Homo sapiens: one gene and its partners. The protein of the gene in region 4 purifies or fractionates together with the protein of the main gene of each other region. This does not show direct contact. Each region holds a gene or a part of one and is shown on either strand. Other genes may lie near its edges. The genes, in order: TTC17, ERGIC2, POGLUT2, ENPP7, SLC25A15, POGLUT3 and NAAA.

Region 1 (3,500 bases), on a different chromosome or scaffold from region 4:
ACTCTCAGGCCTCAATTCAGACCTACTGAATCATAATCTGCATTTCAACAAGATCTCCAGGAGACTGATATGCATATTAGGGTAGGAAAAAAAACTGATGTTGAACACAGAATGCAAATAACTGTTAAGACTTCTAGGATCTACAAGACTTGTTTTTTATTTCAAAATGTAAATTTGAAAAAAGCAAGGTAGACCAAACCAGCTCCCCAGGCCTCCTGGTATACCCACAGTGATGAATCATGCTTTCGAGATGTAGGGAAGTCATAAACACAACTTCACACTGCTTTAAGGCTACAAGAAAGTTATGATAGTAAAGCATGCTAAAAGTGAATTTCCTAACCTGTCTTCAATTACTTGGAGTCACTACTTACCTAATTGTGCCTCTTTTGCCATCTGAGTCTCATGAATGATATTTCTTAAGATTTGCTCCTCCTGAATCAGTTTATGTTTTTCTAGGATTTCCTGCTGTCTCAGGTAGTGGTCATGCTGCTTTTGATACTCTTTTAACTCATTCAGTGTTCGCTGGAGAGATCTTAACATTTTTTAATACCAGGAAAAAGTTAGAGCTATAAAATCATAAATTTTAAACCCACTTAAATGCACAGATTTTTCTGGTTCTCAGCAACAATTACTGTGTGTTTTCCTTTTATTTAACATACAACCCTGTATCACCAGTTCAAGAATACTAGGGCAAAAAGATAAATGTGAAATTCTTCCTTTAAATACAACTTTTTTAAAAAATGGGGTCTTGCTCTGTTGTCAAGGCTGGATGGAGAGGCCTGATTGTAGCTCACTGCAGCCTTGTACTCTTGGGCTCAACTCCTGGGCTCAAGGGGTCCTCTTGCCTCAGTCTCCTGGGGAGTATCTGGGACTACAGGCACACGCCACCATGCCTGGCTAATTTAGTTTTAGAAACTGGGTCTTGCTGTGTTGCCCAGGCTAGATTTGAACTCCTGGCATCAAGTGATTCCTCCCCTCCACCCTGCCTCAGTCTCCAGAATAACTGGGATTACAGGCATCAGCCATGACACCTGGCAATACAACTATCATGACATCAAATGGTATATTGCATTTTTCAGGTGCCATAAAAAAATACATGACGATATACAAGTTTATGTATTTAACAACTCTATTTCTCTCTACAAAATTTGCATTAGTTCCATCAACATTCAAAGTCTTTCTAGAATCCTTTCCTCCTTTTCACTTTTTCCCTAGATTCTGCTTAAAGACAAAGTTAAGAGTTAGGGGCCACAGTACTTTGCTTTCATACTCTAGCTTATTGGTTACAGGCCAGGAAAAACTACAGAAACTATGCTTCGAAAGGAATATGCTTCACCACCTGATTTCAGTAAATCAGCTGCCTGATTACATTTAATCAGAAAACCCATACTGCCTATTACACACTGTAACATACAGAGATTTTAGGAACTATACAGATTGTGTAAAGATAGAGCCAGCTCAATTATTAAGAGCATGATACTGGAAAAAGCTCAGCCAGGTATAACAGAAACCAGTTATGAATAAGCAAGCTGGCATCCTTTTTACTTCCTACCACATTATGCCTTAAAAAGATTGGAAAAGAAGCAAATACAAAAGTTTAATGAGTTCTAAATCTCTGTTTAATTCTCTACTAACCAAAGTAAACTCAAATATTACAGCTAATTCTGAGATATGAAAAATTCACTTCTGAGTTAACATGAAGTTTCTTAACTAGCCCTACTGATTGAAGGAAATGTTTTTTAACTTATTATACCTCAAGGATCAAATACAATAGAATTCCATTACTGTACAACCTAACACACAATCATGATTAAAACGTGGGCCAAATAATGTCTCTCAATGCCATTTAACTACCTTAACAATAACTCAACCCTAGGAGCCACCACCTCTCTCCAAGAGGAGAAATATCAACTATTGCACATGTAAGTGATTTTACTGAAACTTAGTATATTCTATGCAAATAAAAATGCAGTCAACAAAGTAAGTAGTCAACTAAGTATCCCAGTCTCCCCACCCCAACTGACTTCATAAAAGTAATCAATGGTCAAAATTGTAAACATTTAAGTGACAGCTTTTACTACAAATATTCTCTAGTTGCAGGAATCCATACAATTAAAGATATTCCTCTACACAACCACTGAATTGTGCTAAACCACCAGGACTTACAGAAAAAGGATAGGACTTGCAGTAGTGAAGAGGTTTCTTTCTTAATTCCAGTTACCAAATTAACACTGATATCCCCTACACAGATTTAACCTAAGGTTCGATAGTGCTAATGCTTGAGTGAAATTTTTCCTCTCAATTACCTATGCTGAGCCTCCAATTTCTGCTCCAGTTTTTGCTGACATAGGACAGCATGCTTCCTCTTTATAGCTTGCTCAAACCCAGGTCTGGCCTGCAAAGCGTGGTCATAACAGAGCACTGAGTGGTTATATTCCCCAAGCATCTGAAGAGACAAAAACAAACATACACACACACACACACACACACACACACACACACACACACACACACACACGGAAAAAAAAATGTTAGCCACGGCCTGGTTGCATCTGTCCAAATCCTCTAATGATTTATGAGATCACACCTACCTCTTACTCTACAGTGACCATTATTTTGATCAGTGACCAGATCCCTACAATATTAAGGCATACTATAGGATGGTTTAGTTGGCAGGTATTGCTAACCTTAAAAGGTGTACCCTGTAGAAGTTTAAAATTCCAATTTAATTATTATTATTGTTTTTTTGGCAAGAGGCTAGAATAATTACATTACTGTGTTGAGGATTTTTCTTCCTCCTAATTTCATTTCCATCGTTCAGACCAAAAAAGGAATGGAAAAAAGTAACATTCTACTGAGGGGGGAGAAAAAAAAAAAAAAAAGAAAGTGGCAACTAGCATGACTCATGAAACAAAGAGTAGTACTTACTGCATATATATTCCCCAAAGTGTAATAGCTGGTGAAGAAGTCACTGTCATCCAGAGCTGCATGGACCACGACAGCAGCATCAGCAGAGAAGTGTGCTCTGTGTAGAACGTTTGCCAGGTTGACCAGGGCAATGTCTTTATTGTGCCTAAGGAAAGCAGCACATATTCCATGATTATGTAGAACCACTTGACAAGGAAAAATGACATTCAAAGTTACTTGTGCTTAGGAAACTAAGATATAGGTGGAGAAAATAAGATAATCATAGTGTTTCATTTTTAAATTATTGATGGCTCTTAATCTGATAGCTACAAATTTTGTCACTAAAATAAGGTATTGCAGACACTGTATGATTTTACAATTTATTTAGGGCTTATATTTGCTTTAAGAAAAGTTAAACTTAGTTTATGATAATTCCATTCAAGTATCATGTGAATCATAGGGCATCTACATATTTTTTCCTTAATGGAAATGGAAAGTATATTACACAATTATCACTTTGAACTTTTTGAGATCTGTGATTTTTTTTTTTTTTTTGTGGTGGGACTTATTTCTTTGAACAGGGATGGAGAAAA
Region 2 (3,500 bases), on a different chromosome or scaffold from region 4:
CAGAATGGCATGTGCTCCTCAGTAACTGTCACCATAAGAGAACTGAGATCATATTTCATAAATATCCCAGAGACTCCATGGCTGCCTGCAGCATGGTTAATGATACGTTCCTAAAAGGGAGGCAAAAGGAAGGGGAGAAATAGGAGGAAGAGAGAAACAGAATTCATGTCATCTGGTTACTTACATACATTCAATATTAAGCCCTGAAGCCCTACTGTAAAAGAAGGACATCCACATTTCCTTATGAACTGTCCTACTAGACTAAGCTCTTCAGAGACAAATTATTTTGTATTCTTTGTGTGGTTAGCTTTTGAAACTATCAAAAGAGCAGAATCATTCTTTTTTTCTCAAAAAGGTCACCTTAGATACAAGTTTTCTACTGAGCTCAAGAGCTTACAAATATGTATGGCATGTTCCTCATGCTATAACTAAACTGCAAGCTTTAGGAATACAAATAATGAGGTTAACTACTACCAAGGGAAATTAAAACAGTTTTACGTAGGGCATTACAAAACTCTTTCCCTATTACTAGCACAATACAGCCTTATAAGCCAACTGATCAAGTTTCCAATAAAGTGACTACATCTTAAAGCTCTAAAATGCTCAATATCATGCTGAGTTATAAATATATTGTCACTACCTATAAGGGTAGAAACTGTTTTAGGGATCAGGGCATATACATAATGAAAGACTAATAATGATTCACTTTGGGTTCCAGGACTAATGAATGTCAGCCCTCTCCCTCCCACCCCCTATCCTGCATTTTACCAACCCCAGTTACTCCATTCTTTTTTAAGTTAAAAAACTATTTTAGTCACCCTATCAGTATAAACACATCCTTCAACAGTCAAATGCCCTGGGATTCTATTACATATGTATTTTTGGCTTTGTTATTTTAAAAATATACCCTGGAGATATTTTCCTATCAGTATATAGAAATCCTTCTCATTTGATTTTTAACAATTGCATCTTCCTCCAGTGTGTGTAGATGTACCATCTGGGTTGTTTCTAATCTTCTACTATTACAGATAACAATGCAACGAATAGCCTGAAACACACATTTTTATATTTTTGCCCACCGTATCTTTGGAATAGCTTTCTCGAAGTGCAATTGCTGAGTCAAAGGATAAATGCATAGGTCCTTTTGCAGATACTGCTAAACTACCTTCCTCAAAGATTATGCCACTTTGCATCCCCATAGCACTGCATGTTTGCCTATTTTCCCCAAAGTCTTCTCAACTGTATGTATTGCCTTGAGGTGTTTGCCAATCTTACAGGTGAGAAATGGAATCTCCCTACTCCTTAAAGAAATGTTGAAAAGCACAATATGTTCTGGTATAAACTTTACCTAGTTTCTTTGTGTGAGTGTATATACACACATACCTATACATATATATGCAGTTATATGAACTTGTACTTTCTCCCAAGCCAAGTGAAAAGCTATAGACACATGACACTTCACCCCTAAAAACTCCAATACCTAATCTCATAAGAACAAAAAAAAAAATTCCACAATTATTGAGGGCATGGTCATCATGAGTTATAAGGCTAGTAAAAGAAAACACTATATAAAGGAAAGCAAAATTTTTAAAGCACTTAAATTTTGCCTTAGAATTCTTCTGGATACAAGTGTTTGAATTCACCATTCAAACACAAAAATAAGAAAACATGACCCCAAAGTAGATAAGAAATCTATTAAACTGTCCAATTCCAAAACTTTGCTCATCACTGTCAGTATTTACTTATATGGCCATACCACCCTGAGGTAGTGGAATGTTCTTCATCACAATCAGATGAATACAAAGCATTAATTTAGGAAGGCAAACCCTCTAAATTTGCTATCTAATCCATGATAACCATGTATGCCCAGAGAAGGTAGTACATTTATTAATAAATAAGTAACAGAATTCAAAGAATCTGCTGCCAGATCAAGAACTGCTTATATCAATTTATGAGAAAACATTTATAAAATTAAGACATTAAGAATAAAATAATTAAGGCCATCACAATTTAACAATTTTAAGTCTTAATGCAATAGAAAACCTTTCAGATTTTTTAAATATCTACTTTTATTGCTTTAGAATATACTAATATTCATTTCTGACATATTTCTGATTTAAAATAAAATGTTAATTCATTTCAAAACTTCCACAGATTTTTAAATGAGGGAAGACACCAAGTAAAACACCACCTTATTTTGTAGCCAGGAAACTTTAAAATGCTTTTTTAAAAAAATCACCAAATTATTTTACCGGTTGGATTCAACTTACCCTTTCTGTCACAGAAAACTGATGGGTGTCTGCTGATATTTTATATGTATGTAGTTTTGTTGGCACAACTGTAATAAAATATTGGAACATCTGGTTGTCTAGAATACAAAAAAAACTTTTTATCAATTCAGTAGCAACAAAACTACTGCCAAATATATTCTTCTATTAAACACATTTAACCTGAAATTTAGCTGGATGTGGTGGCTCACACCTGTAATCTCAGCACTTTGGGAGGCTGACGAAGGAGGACTGCTTGAGTGTGGGAGTTCAAGAACAGTCTCGAACTTGAGTCTGGGAGTTCGCGACCAGTCTGGTCAAGAGAGCCAGACCCTGTCTCTACAAAAAATTTAAAAATTAACTGGGCATGGTGGTATGCACCTGTGGGTCCCAGCTGTTCAGGAGGCTGAGGCAGGAGGATCATATGAGCCCAGGAAGTCAAGGCTGCAGTGAGCCATGATTGTGCTACTGCACTCCAGCCTGGGCAACAGAGCAAGAACCTGTCTCAAACAAATAAAAAATAAAAACATTTAATCTGAAATGTAATGTTACATACAACTTAATGTCTAACAAAAAAAATTTTTAAAAGAACCAATGAAAGCAACATATTTATACTCGGTAAAACAAGTTCTCAGCAAGCATAAGATGGGCAACACAGATGTTTAAAAAAATGAATTGGTGACTTAGTTAAATATTCCTTAAAATCGTTAACATCCTTTTATCAATTATGGAAAAGTAGCATTTTTCTTTTTCCTTTTTTTTTTTTTGAGATAGGGTCTCACTCCATCGCCCAGGCTGGAGTGCAGTGGCGCAATCACGGCTCACTGCAGCCTTGACTTCCTGGGCTCCAGCAATCCTCCCGCCTCAGCCTCCTGCGTAGCTGGGACTACAATGCACGCCACCAAGCCCAACTAAATTTTTTTCATTTTTAGTAGAGACAGGGTTTTGCCATGTCGCCCAGGCTGGTCTCAAACTCCTGGGCTCAAGTGATCCTCCTGCCTCAGTCTCCCAAAGCGCTGGGATTATAGGTGTGAGCCACTGCACCCAGCCAGCATTTCTTTATAGTACAGAAACTAAGAATAAAATAAAATTATAAGAGAATAACCACCACAAGACATATTTTCAGTTTCTACTAATATCTTAAGATATACACTAAACCAAAATCAAATTAGCTAGCCTTTGAATAAATACAAGGAACTGATATTACAGTAGGAAGAAAACTAAAGAAACTAC
Region 3 (2,598 bases), on a different chromosome or scaffold from region 4:
CTTTATATCCACCCAATGAGAGAGGCTAGAATATATGAAGACTATGATTCATTTAACTCATGTGTGTCAAACTGTGATCTGCATAGTCCGTCATATATACCAGTTCTGAACATCAACAGTAGAGCATCTGAGAGGAGGCCATCCTTTGAACACTGGCTGCCTATTCCTAACAGACACCTCTTTATGCTATCCTAAATTTCCATGACTTTTTTTTTTAACCGTCTTCTGCCTCACAGTAAAAATAATTTTGCACACAATCTTCCCTAGACTGAGAATGTGAAGACAGAGACTATTCTGCTTTCCTTATCATGGCTTGCACAAGCCTCCATCATCATCTTCATTTATCATGTGCTTACTCTGAGTGAAGCACTGTGCTAAGTACCTATGCTAAATGAATGAACACTGCCCCATGGATCCTTAGAAATTCACATGGTAAATCCCCCCAGTTTATTCATTTTACACGGTTTGTCCTCTGCTTCCCTCTATCAAGGGAAGGTTACAAAATCGGGAGGAGCCAGTACAGGCCAGAAATACACCAACTTTGATCTGTAGCAGAGCCTCAGATATGGGGCTCAGTATCTGCAACTGTGAGATAAAACTCTTACTCTAGATCTAGTACTGTTATTAGCCAAGAACTTGTTTACTACCTGATTTTGTTTTTTTTTTTTTGTTTGTTTATTTTTTTGAGACAGAATCTCACTCTTGTCACCCAGGCTGGAGTGCAGGGGTACGATCTCGGCTCACTGTAACTTCCACCTCCCGGGTTCAAGTGATTCTCCTGCCTCAGCCTCCCGAATAGCTGGGATTATAGGTGTGCACCACCACACCCGGCTAATTTTTGTATTTTTAGTAGAGACGGGGTTTCACCATGTTGGCCAGGCTGGTATCAAACTCCTCACCTCAGGTGATCTGTCTGCCTCAGCCTCCCAAAGTGCTGGGATTACAGGTGTGAGCCACCGCACCCGGCCTACTACCACATTTTTAAAAGAGTCCTTTAAATCGTCGGATATGCTTGATTACAATCTCTAAATGCTTAGGTCCATGGAAATAATTTCCAAGGGAAGTCATGGCTCATACAGAGTCAAGACAAGAGGCCCAAACACACCTGGCACTGTTTAGACAAAGAAATGGTAAGGCAGCAGCAATGTAACACAAAGAGAACATACAAATCCATGCACTGTAACTTTGTAGGATCAGAGGCCAATTTCTTAGTCAGACATCACATAGTTCTAATATTAATAGTTTTCGCTTAATATTGTAACATTTTCCATTAGCTAATCTTTGGTTTTCAACTATTTTTTTATGATTACTTAATATTTGTCTCTGATTTTCATCCACAGAAGTATATATATCTCCCTATAGTAACATATGTTTAGAAATTGTTAAGTAAAATATTATTTGTTCTTAACATGTCTACTTATAAGTTACGTGATGATTTTCTTGGAAAATACTGACCTGGAAAAGTTTGAAATAATAACAGAATATGTCATCGCCCATGAGATTATTTCTTGCAAATTCTTGTCCTGCTTTTGCTATCTTTTTGGCCTACAGGAAGAACAACGACAAAATCCTGTAATAGAATCCATTTTTCCCATGCAGGCATCTGCAAACTGCTCTTCAGAGTATGTATACATTGGGGCAACTGTGGGAAATAATATCTTTGGGGGTAGTCTCATGGTAAAACAGAACATTTAACAGAGTATGTTTGTTTAAATCAGAGGGAGGTTTCTAAGACTTAAAAGTTTGAAAAGTCATATTGGACCTTCTAGAACTAAGCCTCTCCTGGAGAGACAAGGTTGTACACCAAGCAAACTGATGACTTTGTAAACGCAAGATGAAGCTTAGCCAGCTGCCTTCACAAATTTCAGGAGACAATTAGCTTAAAGTTTATTGCATTCCATCCCTCTTTATTTCTGTATTTATGGCTGCATCTACTTCTGAATCAATCCCTCATTTTAACCTGGAGCCTGTTAGTGACTTCTGCCAGACTGGCCATCTTACAATTTTCACATTGCTAGCGGAGGCAATGCTTGTGGCTCAGAGCAACGCTACTTGAAAGAGAAAGTGTAATCAAGGCCACAGTTTAGCTTTTTGTTGTTGTTGTTGTTGTTTGTTGTTGTTGTTTGAGACGGAGTTTTGCTCTTGTTGCCCAGGCTGGAGTGCAATGGTGTGGTCTCGGCTCACTGCAACCTCCGCCTCCCAGGTTCAAGTGATTCTCCTGCCTCAGCCTCCCCAGTAGCTGGGATTACAGGCACCCATCACCACGCCAGCTTATTTTTGTATTTTTAGTAGAGATGGGGTTTGACCATGTTAGCCAGGCTGGTCTTGAACTCCTGACCTCAGGTGATCTGCCTGCCTCAGCCTTCCAAAGTGCTGGGATTACAGGCACGAGCCACCGCACCCAGCCTAGCTTTTTGTTTCACATGCAGAGTGGAGAGTTAATGTAAGATGCAGTGCCCGCTGTGTTCAGCCTAGGGGAACTGCCGTGCCATCTATGGGCAGGCAGCTTCCCATTTACAGGCCAAAGTCTATTACGTGAACATCCTGGATGCTCTCCAGGTACAATACATTTCAAAAGGACCCATGATATTGGGAAAC
Region 4 (3,500 bases):
GTCGGAGGGAGAACTGCACCCTTGGGCCCTGCAGCATTGGGGGTGAGGGTCGGACAGGGAAGATCACTGTGACTCAACAAGAAAGCATTTAACAATTAGACGACTTTCTCCCTTTCCACATCCCTGTCACAGCTGAACAGCTAAATTCTAAAGGGCCAAAGACAAAATGAGAGGTGGGTTACAGTATTGACCCAGGAACCCCCCCACCCACCCCCAGTTTGCAATGCTCTGGGGGCTTCCTGGCCCAGAGGCGAGGCTTCCAGTAAACAAAGTCAGTGGAGGTTTCCAAGATGACGCTGGAATAAATGTCAGAGCCCATGCCCACCCCAGAGCCAAGTTATCCACTCAAGCCGGGGTTCCCTCACTCCAGAAGGATCATAGACACACTCAGGGCTCCTTCCACCGGCTGGTGAGCAGGAAGCCAAGGTAGAGACCCTGGCATCACAAGGCTCTTGATCCAATGAAAGAATATCCTGGGGGAGTGGACGGGCAGGTGGGATGGACAGTGATGAGGCAGACACTGCGTATCTGGGAACATTTTTTTTTTTTTTTTGAGACGGAGTCTCGCTCTGTCGCCCAGGCTGGAGTGCAGTGGCGCCATCTCCGCTCACTGCAAGCTCTGCCTCCCGGGTTTACACTATTCTCCTGCCTCAGCCTCCCAAGTAACTGGGACTACAGGCGCCCGCCACCACGCCTGGCTAATTTTTTTGTATTTTCAGTAGAGACAGGGTTTCACCGTGCTAGCCAGGATGGTCTCCATCTCCTGACCTCGGGATCCACCCGCCTTGGCCTCCCAAAGTGCTGGGATTACAGGCATGACCCACTGCGCCCGGCCTCTGGGAACATCTTTATACTGATGTCTTGTTTAGTGCTCAAGTCCAGTGGGCACCTGTTGTTTCCTCTATAAAATCAGGTTTTACCCCCATAGAACATGAGATCAGGGATGTTTTAGAAATTAAAGGCCCCGCAGCTGCAGCTAGGAGCAGGGATGGGTGGGTGGAACAGAGAAGTAGGCACGTGGGGGACAAATGTGTTCACAGGCATGAGACAAGGGGCAGCCCACTGAGGAGTCCTGTCTTTCACGCTGCCTTGTCTGGCAGGGCCTGAGGGCTGGCTCCTTCTTCTACCCGGGCGGGAACGTCACCTACCAAGGGGTGGCTGTGACGCGGAGCCGGAAAGAAGGCATCGCACACAACTACAAAAATGAGACGGAGTGGAGAGCGAACATCGACACAGTGATGGCGTGGTTCACAGAGGAGGACCTGGATCTGGTCACACTCTACTTCGGGGAGCCGGACTCCACGGGCCACAGGTACGGCCCCGAGTCCCCGGAGAGGAGGGAGATGGTGCGGCAGGTGGACCGGACCGTGGGCTACCTCCGGGAGAGCATCGCGCGCAACCACCTCACAGACCGCCTCAACCTGATCATCACATCCGACCACGGCATGACGACCGTGGACAAACGGGCTGGCGACCTGGTTGAATTCCACAAGTTCCCCAACTTCACCTTCCGGGACATCGAGTTTGAGCTCCTGGACTACGGACCAAACGGGATGCTGCTCCCTAAAGAAGGGAGGCTGGAGAAGGTGTACGATGCCCTCAAGGACGCCCACCCCAAGCTCCACGTCTACAAGAAGGAGGCGTTCCCCGAGGCCTTCCACTACGCCAACAACCCCAGGGTCACACCCCTGCTGATGTACAGCGACCTTGGCTACGTCATCCATGGGGTGAGTCGCCTGCTGGAGGCACCACCTCCAGGGGCTCCCTCCCCAGGCTCTGGGTCTTCTTTTTTTTTTTTTGAGACCAGGGTCTTGCTCTGTTGCCCAGGCTGGAGTGCAATGGCAGGATCTCAGCTCACTGCAGCCTTAAACTCCCAGACTCAAGCGATCCTTCCACCTCAGCCTCCTGAGTAGCTGAGACCACAGGTGCACACCACCATGCCTGGCTAATTTTTGTGTGTGTTTTGTTTTGTTTTGTTTCATTTGAGACAGAGTTTCACTCTTGTCATCCAGGCTGGAGGGTAATGGTGCCATCTTGGCTCGCTGCATCCTCCACCTCCTGGGTTCAAGCGATTCTCCTGCCTCAGCCCTCTGAGGCATTACAGGCGCCTGCCACCATGCCTGACTAATTTTTTGTATTTTTAGTGGAGACAGAGTTTCACCATGTTGGCCAGGCTGGTCTCGAACTTCTGGCCTCAGGCGATCCACCCGCCTCAGCCTCCCAAAGTTATGGGATTCAGGTGTGAGCCACTGTGCCCAGCTGATGTTTGTATTTTTTTGTAGAGACAGGGTTTTGCATGTTGGCCAGGCTGGTCTCAAACTCCTGGGCTGAAGCGATCCTCCTGCCTGGGCCTCCCAAAGTGCTGGAATTACAGGGGTGAGCCACTGCGTCTGGCCTCTCCTTCCATCTCCATAGAGGCACTTCCTGTTTCTAGCTGGTCCCCAGTTTGAGGAGTGTCAGCACCGAAGGGACACTTCCTTCACTATGCGGTAGGGTGTGTGCACATCTGTGTGTGCCCTCCACATTCAGGCACCAGGCAGTGGGAGTGTGTGTGCACGTCTGTATCCATCATGACCAGGCACTGTGTGATAGGCGTGTGTGTGTGTGTGTGTGTGTGTGTGTGTGTGTGTGTGCGTCCTACGTGTCCAGGGTAAAGTGTAGAAGTCCAGCCCCAAGGGTGACATGGAAGAGGTAGGAAAGAGTCAGGAGCCCAACCTCCCCTCAGCAGACAGCACAGGGATGCTGAGCCGGAAGCGAAGCACAGATTAGGGAGCAGACATCCCCGGAAAGGAAGTGACCGATGGGAGGCAGCGTTCAACACCGCACAGGCGGCAGGCCCCGAAGCCTGGAGCTGCCCGCTCCACTCCCATTTACTCAGGGTCTGGTCTCCGTTCATTTAACTGGACCTTCCCTGAACTTCACTCTTTAGGGTGACTGATCTTTGGAGGCTCAGAATTCGGGGAAACTGAGTCTTGGAACCCCTCCAGCCCTCACGTTGGTGCTCCTTCCTAAGGGGGTGTTCATAGGGTGGATAGGGTAGGCGGAGAGGGTCTGTTGCTCCCAGCAAGGACCCAGGACCCTTGCCCGCTCCCCGGCAGAGAATTAACGTCCAGTTCAACAATGGGGAGCACGGCTTTGACAACAAGGACATGGACATGAAGACCATCTTCCGCGCTGTGGGCCCTAGCTTCAGGGCGGGCCTGGAGGTGGAGCCCTTTGAGAGCGTCCACGTGTACGAGCTCATGTGCCGGCTGCTGGGCATCGTGCCCGAGGCCAACGATGGGCACCTAGCTACTCTGCTGCCCATGCTGCACACAGGTGAGGGCAGGGTGCCCCAAATCCCCGCCTGCTCTGGTGTGTACACGTGTGCACACGAGGGTGCCTGCATGCCTGTGACCAGGACACCCTTGAGCCCCAAGTGGGGCCACCTCCCCTGGCTTTGGAGAACACCAGAATCTCTCACATTCCCACAACACGTGACCTCTCACGAGCACCTCATG
Region 5 (3,500 bases), on a different chromosome or scaffold from region 4:
ATTTAAAAACTATTTTCCTTCTGAGAGCTTCAGAAGACACTGTCAGGTATTCCCCATCAGCCAGCCCTTCCTGCAGCACTGCTACATGGAATGTAACAAAGTAATCCAGCTCAACACAATTAACCTCCCTTCCAATCCGAGTCTTAGCCCCAAGCTACCATACCATGCCTTGTGTGAACACTGCTAGACCTCAAATACAAAGTCAACTGATAATTCAAGGTGTTGATCTGCCTAAGTCCTTTGGATATAACTATTACTATCTTTTAATTACCTTGAATTACTTCCAAGGAACATGAGGGCAGCTTTCTGGGTGTTGTTAATGTTCTATTTGTTAATCTGGACACAGGTTACAAAGGCACATAAATTGTGTCACTATTTATAGAGCTGCATACTGTGACTTCAATGTGCATTCATGATACTATGTGTATTATTTCAATAAAAAGTTTTAAAGACTTACACTCTTGGACTTCTAGGCAATGAATATTAGATTCAAGTTGGCTGTAATGAATCTCAAGGGTGCAGAAAATAGGGCACTTTTCCAAACCCCATTCTCACTGAGTGGGGACTGATCCTTGAAAATGGTCAATTTATCTACTGCTTTTTCCCAGCAGATTTATAGGCTTTGAGTTAACCACAGCAATATCCTTGGTCAGAACTCAGCCAGATGTCAAGATAAGTAAGCAAGTTTTGCAATTAATAAGGATAATAAATTGCTTTCCAATTCAAGTAAATCAAATTGTGTATGAAACAGTACTCTCAAAGGATAATGAGAATGTGTTTTCAAGAGTGAGCTAGAGAGTGATTTAATCACTGAAGAGTAGCTATGCTTATAAAAGTATTGATTAATGTTCTCAGAACTTGGGCCATCTGCAGGTACACTTGAAGGACTGGGGATAAGTGGGGTAAGAATAGTTACCTCTAGGATCTGGGTCAATCAGCCTGAATACCCATACGAAACCTGAAGTGGGGATCAAATATTCATCTCAGAATCCAAATTGGCACTTATGAAGGCTCAGGTCTAAGGCAAAGTTCAAAAGCCACCCATTATGTACCTCCAAAAATGGCTGAAGATCATGCCTTATGTTTCCAAGAGGCCAAAAAGGGTGTTAAGCTCCTGGCTTCTCCAGTTCTGGGGTATTAAATATCTGTCTAAGACTTTTTATGCAGTGGGTGGTGGGTCCCATCACAGCCAATCCTTTCAGAAAATCTCTGATAGGGGAAAGCATTCTAGAAACAATATTTTGGAGTAGATAAATTGGCTTCCACATCTGCCACTTTAGTACAATGTAAAATGAAAAATCATCCAATACACTAGGGCAATAGAGACCTGACGTTTGTGCCCAAGTGGTGCTTACTTCTGGCTCTTGGCTATCTTCCCTGATGTCTCCATCTCATACATGGTCTGCAGCCGGCACTTCACGAGCTCCGTGGGGCAGAGCACCAGTGCAGCAAAGGCAGAGGCGAAGGAACCGGCGGCTGCATTCTGCAGATCACTGAAAGCACACAAGCAGACAGTTACCCCTCAGTTTCTTCATTCCTTTGGCACTCACCACACAGACAGCACTTTGGTGATAAAGCAGGGTAAGGAGCCGGGCGTGAGGGCATGAACCTGTGATTACAGCTACTTAGGAGACTGAGGTGGGAGGATCACTTGAGCCCATGTGTTCTAGGCTACAGTGCTATGACTGCATCTGTGAACAGCCACTGCATTCCAGCTTGGGAAACAAAGAGAGACCTCCATGTCTAAAAAAATGATGAAAGGGCCGGGCGCCGTGGCTCACAACTGTAATCCCAGCACTCTGGGAGGCCGAGGCGGGCGGATCACGAAGTCAGGAGATCGAGACCATCCTGGCTAACATGGTGAAACCCTGTCTCTACTAAAAATACAAAAAAAAAAAAAAATTAGCCGGGCGTAGTGGTGGGTGCCTGTAGTCCCAGCTACTCAGGAGGCTGAGGCAGGAGAATGGCGTGAACCCAGGAGGCAGAGCTTGCAGTGACCTGAGATTGTGCCACTGTACTCTAGCCTGGGCAACAGAGTGAGACTCCGTCTCAAAAAAAAAAAAAAAATGATGAAAGGAAGGAAACTTGCATGTGCTGTTTCATCTAAGGATCCCACAACCCTATGAAGCAGACAGCAGCACCCCAGTTCCCTATGGGAAGTGACACTTAGAGATGACATAATGTGGCCAGTCACACAGCTACTAAGTGGCAGTGCTAGGATGTGAACCCAGGTCTTCCTGACTGCAACAACCATATTCTTTTGATTACACACAGCGCTATGGACTGAATTTTATCCCCCCAAGGTGATGGTGTTAGGAGATGGGGCCTTTGGGAGTAATCAGGTGTAGATGAGGTCATGAGGATAGGGCCATTGTGATGGGATTAGTCCCTTAGAAGAAGAGGCCAGAGAGCTCGCTCACTCTCTGCCATATGAGGACACAGTGAGAAGACGGCTATGTTCAAATTAAGAACAAGCCCTCATCAGACACCAGATCTGCTGGAACCTTGATATTAGACTTTTCAGACCATAGAACTGTGAGAAATGTTTGTTTAAGCCACTCAATCTGTAGTATTCTGTTACAACAGCCAAAGCCAAGATACATCGTGACATGACAAAATAAAACGCCACAAAAAAACCTAAAGGAAAGGAGGAAAATATTGCCCATAGTCCCCCACTGAAAAACATGCACTATTAATACTTCAGTGTGTCTGCCCTAAGTTTTAAATAAATCTAGGTTCTAAGCCTATCCCCACATGCCCACAATCCAACCTGGAGCAACCAGATGTGCAATGTAACTGCCACAGATGAAAACCCAGAAAAAACGTTTAACCAAAAGTTGCTGCATCACAAAAAGATTTTCCAGTTCAACTGGTGACCTACCACCTCAGCAACACAGACGAGGGTAAAATGGTGCCACAGGAGTGGGTGAAGCCAGTACAAGTCTGCAAGCTCAATGGTATTAGGTGAAATTGCTAAACTGGAAATCTAAACTAGGCAGAGGGATGAATGCACAAATACAAAACAGAAGCATTCACCTCATGTATGGATTTAGTACCAGCAGCCAAATGTCACCAGCAGGGTTGTGAAACTGGAATCCAGTAAGAGTTCAAGAATATGGGGAGGCCAGGCGTGGTGGCTCATACCTGTAATTCCAGCACTTTGGGAGGCCAAGGCAGGCAGATCAGTTGAGGCCTGGCCAACATGGCAAAACCCCGTCTCTACTAAAAATTAGCCATGCCTGGTGGTGCACGCCTGTAATCCCAGCTACTCTGGTGGCTGAGGCACAAGAAGCGCTTGAACCAGGGAGGCAGAGGTTGCAGTGAGCCAAGATCATGCCACTGCACTCCAGCCTGGGTGACACAGTGAGACTCTTTCAAAAAAAAAAAAACGAATACGGGGAAAAGTCTGAGAAGTGTTTCAGAAGAAAGGCTTCTCTGCGAGTTCCTGGTTCATGGGAGTTGGGATAGAAGATCCCTTCCAGCCCTAGAAGAGTGTTGTG
Region 6 (3,500 bases), on a different chromosome or scaffold from region 4:
AAACTTTTTGAGTGCTGACACCACCACTTGGGTCGCTAAGATAGTGACACCTTTGCTTTCTGACAGTTCAATGTATACAAACTTTGTTTCATGCACAAATTATTAAAAATATTATATAAAATTACCTTCAGGGTATGTGAACAAGGTATATATAAAATATAAATGAATTTTGTGTTTAGACTTGGATCTCATCCCCAAGATACCTCATTATGTACATGCAAATATTCCCAAATCTTAAAAAATCTGAAGCCTGAAACACTCCTGGTCCTAAGCATTTCAGATGAGGGATACTCAACCAGTACTGCTATATCCATCTACATATATAAAGCCACCGGGAGAACTAGTCCACTTGGTGCAGTCTTCTATACTGTCCTTCACAGCTTAGATTCAATCTTTCCTTAAAGTGTAGCCGGGATACACAGGAGTGTGATTCTGGGCTGACTCAAAGTTCTTCTCTTGAAGGCTTTTTCCTGTGGCACTGGCAGATGGCTGTGCTATCTTCTGGCTGAGGAACAAGTTCCATTCCATCACGTACTTCGGGTTTGCTGGACTGGCGCTCGGCATATTTCTGAAACGTGGGTTTAAAGGGAACTGAAAGGTTAGTTCACACTGCATTCTGTTGACTCCCCCACCCACTCCCATCCGCAGTCACGCCATCTTTTCTAGTTGCTGTGTGTCTGCAGACTAAAACCAAAGGTCTGGTTTATTCCAGTCCTAAAGTTACATTTTAACTTTAGCTATCACAGGCACTAGTTATAATTCATAATCTAGCAAGAAACCCCAATCCACAATTTTATGTGTTGGTTGGAAGCCTCTACAAAAGGGATGCCAAGCCAGACGTCCCTACCTGAAACAAACAGCAGCTCTCAGCATTTATTTTCCACTTGTTATTGAATAATTAACTTTGTTGAATACTCAAGCCAGCAAACAAACAAGATAACCATCTGAAAAGTTGGCAGTCTCACACATTCTTTCTTTTAGGCCTATAGTCACACGCATTTTTGAATGGCAACAGGTCTGTGTAATGTTCCTCCACTGTGGCCCTGAGTGAAATATTTCTATAAATGGAGTTTTTTTTGTTTTTGTTTTTTTTTTTTTTTGAGACACGGTCTTACTCTGTCACTGAGGCTGGAGTGCAGTGGCGTGATCTTGGCTCACTGCAGCCTCCAACATCCTAGGCTCAAGTGATCCTTACACCTCAGTCTCCTAAGTAGCTGGGACTACAGGCGCGTACCACCATGCCCAGCTAATTTTTTTCATTTTTTGTAGAGATGGCGTTTCACCATGTTGCACAGCCTGGTCTTCAACTCCTGGACTCAAGCAATCTGCCTACCTCAGCCTCCCAAAGTGCTGGGACTACAGGCATGAGCCACCCTGCCCAGACATAAATTGGATATTTCAATTCAATGATTCCATGTCCCTTTTGCTGTATATTCCTGGTACTGGACCAAATGCAACAAAATGTTGACACAGTAGATAAGCCTAATTAATATTTTAGAGAGAGAAATTCCTAACATTAAAATTGAAACTATTTGGGAGGCTGAGGCTGGAGAATCACTTGAGGAACCAGGGAAACACGGCAAGAGCTTGTTTCTAAAAAAAATAAATAAATTAGCTGAGTGTGGTGGTGTAGTCCCAGCTACTAGTGGGAGGCTGAGGTGGGAGGGGGGAAGAATCGCTTGATCCTAGGAGGTTGAGGCTGCAGTAAGCTGTGATCATGCCACTGCACTCCAGCCTAGGTGACCGAGTAAGAAATATATATATTTTTAGATGCATTTTGCTCTTGTTGCCCAGGCTGGAGTGCAGTGGTGCAATCTAGGCTCACTGCAACCTCTGCCTCCCAGGTTCAAGCGATTCTCCTGCCTCAGCCTCCTGAGTAGTTGAGATTACAGGCATGTGCCACCACACCTGGCTAATTTTGTATTTTTAGTAGAGACGGGGTTTGACCATGATGGCCAGGCTGGTCTTGAACTCCTGACCTCAGGTGATCCACCCTCCTCGACCTCCCAAAGTGCTGGGATTACAGGTGTGAGCCACTGCACCCGGCCAAGAAATTGTTAAAAAAACTGTTTAACGATTAAAGCTAGACCAACAGAGGGGACAGACCAATTTAAGGGAAGGAAGGGCTGCTTCTAGTAAATAGTGTAACTTATCATTTTTATTTTTCTATGAAAATGAAAATATGAGAGGGTAGTATCCACAAGCATCTAGGGAAATTTACTTTTACTATGCCTACAGAAAAATAAATTTAGGTTAAAAACAAGAACATAATTTCCTTTTTTTATTCTTCCTGTCTAGATTTTTCTGAGTAAAACTCAAGGTAGTTACTCAAAAGACCAATCCTCGGATTCCCAATAAACACTATACTTCAGGATTCAGCCCTAAGGTGTTAGAACTGTTATACATATTTCTCATTAGTTTGTTTGCTACAGCAAGCTAAATATTTGCATTCTGCCTTGTACTATAAAAGGCATGAATCTTAAGTATCAAGGAGAATAAGGAGGCGACATTTTGAGTAAAAAGGGATGTTAATGATCTCCAGTCCAACCATCTTGTTTTCCAAATAAGAAAAAATGTTTTTCTCTGAGGTTCCAGAACACCTACACTAGGAATTCAATAAAGCATTTAATAAAAGAGAGCACTGAGAAGATGGGAGGAGTTGCTAATCTATATTTGTGAGGGCTCCCAGCGTCGTTTTACATAATATGGAATAAAGATGAAAATATGGAGGCCACGGCTGGGCGTGGTGGCTCACACCTGTATCCCAGCACTTCAGGAGGCCAAGGCAAGGCAGATCACCTGAGGCCAGGAGTTCAAGACCAGCCTGGCCAACATGGCGAAACTCCGTTTCTACTAAAAATACAAAAATTAGCTGGGCATGGTGGCGTGTACCTGTAATCCCAGCTACTTGGGAGTCTGAGGCAGAATTGCTTGAACCTGGAAGGCAGAGGCTGCAGTGAGCTGAGATTGAGACACTGCACTCCAGCCTGCATGACAGAGTGAGACTTCATCTCAAAACAAACAAACAAACAAAAAACAAAAAAAAGGGGGCCACCAAATGAAGACTTAGCACTATCTTTCCCTAGGCAAGTGCCTTGGCTTAGCCAGTGGTCCATAGGCTTGACTGTGAGTCCTTCAGGAAGCCAGGCAGGAAGTGTACAGGCCAAGCGGGTAGTCTGAGGACACCCGACCCAGCAGTGTGGACGGACACTCTGAACTGACCTGCAGTACTTGGTAATAGTAGCAGTAAAGCCTGTGTGGCTGTAGTAGGTCCCTAGCCATCAACTGTCCTTCTTTTGCAATCTTCTTGGCTTCTTCATCATTTTCCTGAAAGGTTAAAAAAAATAAAAATGAATGAAAATTACTACTGCGACCCACAAAGAGAGGGTTAAGTGTGAGGTGGGACAGATGTGGGGTTGAAAGTGAACAGCATGGGAAAGCCAGAACATAATGGAATTATAACTTAAGAATGAGGCTACAGGGGCCGGACATGGTGGCTC
Region 7 (3,500 bases), on a different chromosome or scaffold from region 4:
TGACCCTGACAGCCTCCCAACACCCGCCCAGCTGCTGAGAGGCTCTGCCCACTGCTCTCCTCCACACAACACTCCCTTCCCAGCCAAGGCACTGGCGAAGGGGCTCAGGTACATTTTCTGGGAGAGGATAGCACCCATAGGTCTTGCCAGTTCCTGTGACAGAATGGGCATATTCTCCTGACCATAAGAAAACACTGCAAACCAGAAAGCACGTAGCAGCCTACCTCCGGTCATCTTCCTTGGGTGCTGGCTTCCAGTGGTCGTAATTTGTCTCAACTCGGAACCACCTACAACAGAGCACATCATCTTGTCTTATCCAAGGCAATTTACGACATAGCAGAGGAGACATATGAACAAATTTAAAATACCCCTCATTTCACCGATTAAAAAAAATGATTATCTGATACAAAATGACCAGAGCTTTCAATTCTACTTACGCTCCATTCAAAGGATCTAGAGGCCAAATGTCTGCTGGGCCATCTCTGTTCCTCGTGATGACCACCCCCTCCCGGGGGGACGTGCCACCAACAATGTAATAAACATCAGCAATAAGGGGAGTCTTGGCCAACTTGCCAACAGCTGCTTCGAAGTTTTCCGACTCACTCAGGGTCTGAACGAAAGGATGAACTTGCGTGAGCAACCCCACCTGCAGTTGGGTCCACACCAGATGATGCAAAAATGATCCAAAGCACATTCTCCTGATATGTTATGTCATGACTATCACCTTGATCTGCTCTGACCTTATCCTCTTGTTATCAGGGCTCCTAAGATGGAAGAAATTTCAGCTTCAAAGCGGAGCCAGGAGCAGCAGGAAATTCTGACAGGAGGAGAGAACTGTTGACAAGCCCTAGGCCTGGCTCAGCAAACACCGGCTGTGTGCTCTCCAGGCAGATCGCCCTCACAAAGGACTTTTTGTGCTTCTTCATTCATTTATTATTTAAACAGGGTTTTCTTGAATATCTACACTGTGCCAGGCACTGTGCTGGTGGGGGATAGAGCAGTGAATGAGTCGCCTGGTCCTATTCTCCCCAAGCCTCTGAGGAAGACAGAAAAGTCAACAACCAATGGTGACACAGTGTAATGAGAGTTCACATAGGAGAATAAGATGCTATGGACGTCACAGTAGGGGTCCCATCCTCACCAAGGGCAGTGGAGGAGGTACTGCTGGGAAGCATCGCATGAATTGAAGCTAAAGAGACAAACACAAGTGAGTGGTGAAAGTGGTGGTTGCAGGGTGAGGAGTGGCAGTGGGGAGGAGGGTTCTAGTTCGATGGACTAGACTGGCAAAGGCTTGGGGATGAAAGAGCATGCGCTACATTAGCGCCCTGAGCTTAACTGGTGTTCAGACACCCCGAGGGCGCATGATGACTTCCAAAGGCCTGTGGCAAGGATACTTAAGGGGATCACTCCCCAAATCTTCAGATTCCATATGGGCTCCTTCCTAGAGCTGATCTGCTCAAGAATATCCTTCGGTGGAGGGCCTGCTCTTCCTGTCTCCACCTTCACAACCACTCTGCTGCCATGTTTTAAAGGAAGTACACTGTATGCTCACCCATCCTGGATATTGCCAGGGCACATTGTCAAGGGTGGAGGTGGTGATAGGGTCAAACAAAAGAACAATTCAAGGTATTGGTGTCTGCAAAGGCTCCGTCATTCAGCACCATAAACCTTAACAGCAATAACCATAAGGCAAGAAAACTCTACAAAACCCATGGCAGGGCTTTGTAGAGTTTTCCTGCCTTATACTTAGCTATGCAGGGAGGCTGAGGTGGGAGAATTGCTTGAACCCAGGAGATGAAGGTTGCAGTGAGCCGAGATCATGCCACTGCACTCCAGCCTGGGTGACAGAGTGAGACCCTGTCTCAAAAAAAAAAAAAAAAAGAAATGATCTGTCCTAACTTGTTTGACTGTAGGTCATATGATCCCCTTTCCAGAGAGGATCCTGCCCTGTACCTGGAAGAAGGGAATGTATGGTCAGAGAGGCCAAGAAGAATCTAGACACACAGGCCTAGCTGGGTTTCCCCACTCCATCTATTAGCACTGGATCTACCTTTTTGTTCAATCATATTTCTACATGGCATTCCATACTTTGTTAAACCTAAGCATAAAAATGGACAATGTCCCCTGTATCTTTGGGTCTTCATTCTGAAGACTCCTATGTCATGTACATGTTAAATAAATTTGTATGCCTTTTCTCCAATTAATCTGCCTTTTGTGAGTTGACTTTTCAGTGAACCATCAGAGGGCAAAGAAGAAATTTTCCCTTGGCCTTTGCAGAGGTAATAGGAGTGATGAAATATTTGTTTGCTTATGTTGCCTATACCATCCCCCAACTACTATCAAATTCATTTTCTCTAACCTGTGACAGCAAAGCAAAAGAACATCCATAAAAAATACTGAAGGCACTGGTGACTTATTTTACCCAGGCGACAAAGTCAGGGAGTGCAAATGCATCTATCTCAGGAAATGGAGGAAATGGGCAGTGACTGCTAATAGACATGGAGTTTCTTTCTTCTTCCTTTTTTTTTTTTAGTCTAGGTCCCAGAGTTTCTTTTGTTATTTCATTTATTTACTTCTTTCCAGACATGGGGTCTCAATGTTGTCTGTTGGACCTGAACTCCTGGGCAGAAGGGATCCTCCCGCCTCAGCCTCCTGAGTGTCTGGGACTGCAGGCGAGCACCATCACACCCAGCAGATTCGTCCTTACCAGAGAACATAGCAACCTCAGCATATGGATTTTTTTTCTTTCCTTATCAAATCAAGAACTTTCACCTTTTTGATACAGGAGATAGAAAGAAATTAGGCAGATAGTGAGGGTAGAAGAGTCCTTGGCAAGGCTTCCTTTCTAACAAAAAGTAGCCCAAGAAGTTATTCTTTTCTAACAAAGAGCAGCCTGAAAAATCGAGCTGCAAACATAGACAAGCAAGCTGGAAGCTTGCACGGGTGAATGCCAGCAGCTGTGCCAACAGAAAAGGGCTACCTGGGAGCCAGGTATGTTCAAAACGGAGGCTCCATCTTCCCTTCTTTTTTCTTTTTTTTTTTTTGAGACAGAGTCTTGCTGTGTCTCCCAGGCTGGAGTGCAGTGGTGTGATCTCGGCTCACTGCAACCTCTGCCTTCTGAATTCAAGTGATTCTCCTGCCTCAGCCACCCAAGGGGCTGGGATTACAGACACCCGCCACTACACCTGACTAATTTTTGTATTTTTAGTAGAGATGGGGTTTCACCATGTTGGCCAGGCTAGTCTCGAACTCCTGACCTCCTCACTTCTCTGCCTCGGCCTCCCAAAGTGCTGGGATTACAGGTGTGAGCCACCGCGCCCGGCCCATCTTCCCTTTTCTTTGTCACCATGTGTACAGTAAAGAAGCAGGCAACATGGCACCAGCCAGGTAGAGAATCCATCAGCATAATAAAAGATTAGGGTGGGGGCAGACAGCTTTTCATGCCCTATGCAAATGGTACACCTGGTCCAACCAATCTTTGCTGCCCTATGTAAATCAGT

Evidence for each region.
Region 1: the proteins of ENPP7 (region 4) and TTC17 purify together in Homo sapiens (affinity purification with mass spectrometry; one large-scale study listed by BioGRID and IntAct). This does not show direct contact.
Region 2: the proteins of ENPP7 (region 4) and ERGIC2 purify together in Homo sapiens (affinity purification with mass spectrometry; 2 studies listed by BioGRID and IntAct, with this or other methods). This does not show direct contact.
Region 3: the proteins of ENPP7 (region 4) and POGLUT2 purify together in Homo sapiens (affinity purification with mass spectrometry; one large-scale study listed by BioGRID and IntAct). This does not show direct contact.
Region 5: the proteins of ENPP7 (region 4) and SLC25A15 purify together in Homo sapiens (affinity purification with mass spectrometry; one large-scale study listed by BioGRID and IntAct). This does not show direct contact.
Region 6: the proteins of ENPP7 (region 4) and POGLUT3 purify together in Homo sapiens (affinity purification with mass spectrometry; one large-scale study listed by BioGRID and IntAct). This does not show direct contact.
Region 7: the proteins of ENPP7 (region 4) and NAAA purify together in Homo sapiens (affinity purification with mass spectrometry; one large-scale study listed by BioGRID and IntAct). This does not show direct contact.

What each region holds. Positions count from the first base shown.
Region 1 is NC_000011.10:43,396,920-43,400,419, reverse strand, and holds part of TTC17 (tetratricopeptide repeat protein 17 isoform 1 precursor), read right to left. Parts: intron 3,074-3,500; coding exon 2,929-3,073; intron 2,447-2,928; coding exon 2,307-2,446; intron 533-2,306; coding exon 372-532; intron 1-371. UniProt on the Homo sapiens protein: Plays a role in primary ciliogenesis by modulating actin polymerization.
Region 2 is NC_000012.12:29,343,173-29,346,672, forward strand, and holds part of ERGIC2 (endoplasmic reticulum-Golgi intermediate compartment protein 2), read right to left. Parts: intron 2,369-3,500; coding exon 2,271-2,368; intron 111-2,270; coding exon 1-110. UniProt on the Homo sapiens protein: Possible role in transport between endoplasmic reticulum and Golgi.
Region 3 is NC_000013.11:102,786,379-102,788,976, forward strand, and holds part of POGLUT2 (protein O-glucosyltransferase 2 isoform 1 precursor), read right to left. Parts: intron 1,546-2,598; coding exon 1,456-1,545; intron 1-1,455. UniProt on the Homo sapiens protein: Protein glucosyltransferase that catalyzes the transfer of glucose from UDP-glucose to a serine residue within the consensus sequence peptide C-X-N-T-X-G-S-F-X-C. Can also catalyze the transfer of xylose from UDP-xylose but less efficiently.
Region 4 is NC_000017.11:79,733,943-79,737,442, forward strand, and holds part of ENPP7 (ectonucleotide pyrophosphatase/phosphodiesterase family member 7 precursor), read left to right. Parts: intron 1-1,100; coding exon 1,101-1,727; intron 1,728-3,098; coding exon 3,099-3,318; intron 3,319-3,500. UniProt on the Homo sapiens protein: Choline-specific phosphodiesterase that hydrolyzes sphingomyelin releasing the ceramide and phosphocholine and therefore is involved in sphingomyelin digestion, ceramide formation, and fatty acid (FA) absorption in the gastrointestinal tract.
Region 5 is NC_000013.11:40,803,111-40,806,610, reverse strand, and holds part of SLC25A15 (mitochondrial ornithine transporter 1), read right to left. Parts: intron 1,494-3,500; coding exon 1,356-1,493; intron 1-1,355.
Region 6 is NC_000011.10:108,474,385-108,477,884, forward strand, and holds part of POGLUT3 (protein O-glucosyltransferase 3 isoform 1 precursor), read right to left. Parts: intron 3,328-3,500; coding exon 3,223-3,327; intron 569-3,222; coding exon 443-568; 3' UTR 1-442. UniProt on the Homo sapiens protein: Protein glucosyltransferase that catalyzes the transfer of glucose from UDP-glucose to a serine residue within the consensus sequence peptide C-X-N-T-X-G-S-F-X-C. Can also catalyze the transfer of xylose from UDP-xylose but less efficiently.
Region 7 is NC_000004.12:75,920,514-75,924,013, forward strand, and holds part of NAAA (N-acylethanolamine-hydrolyzing acid amidase isoform 1 precursor), read right to left. Parts: intron 611-3,500; coding exon 438-610; intron 288-437; coding exon 225-287; intron 1-224.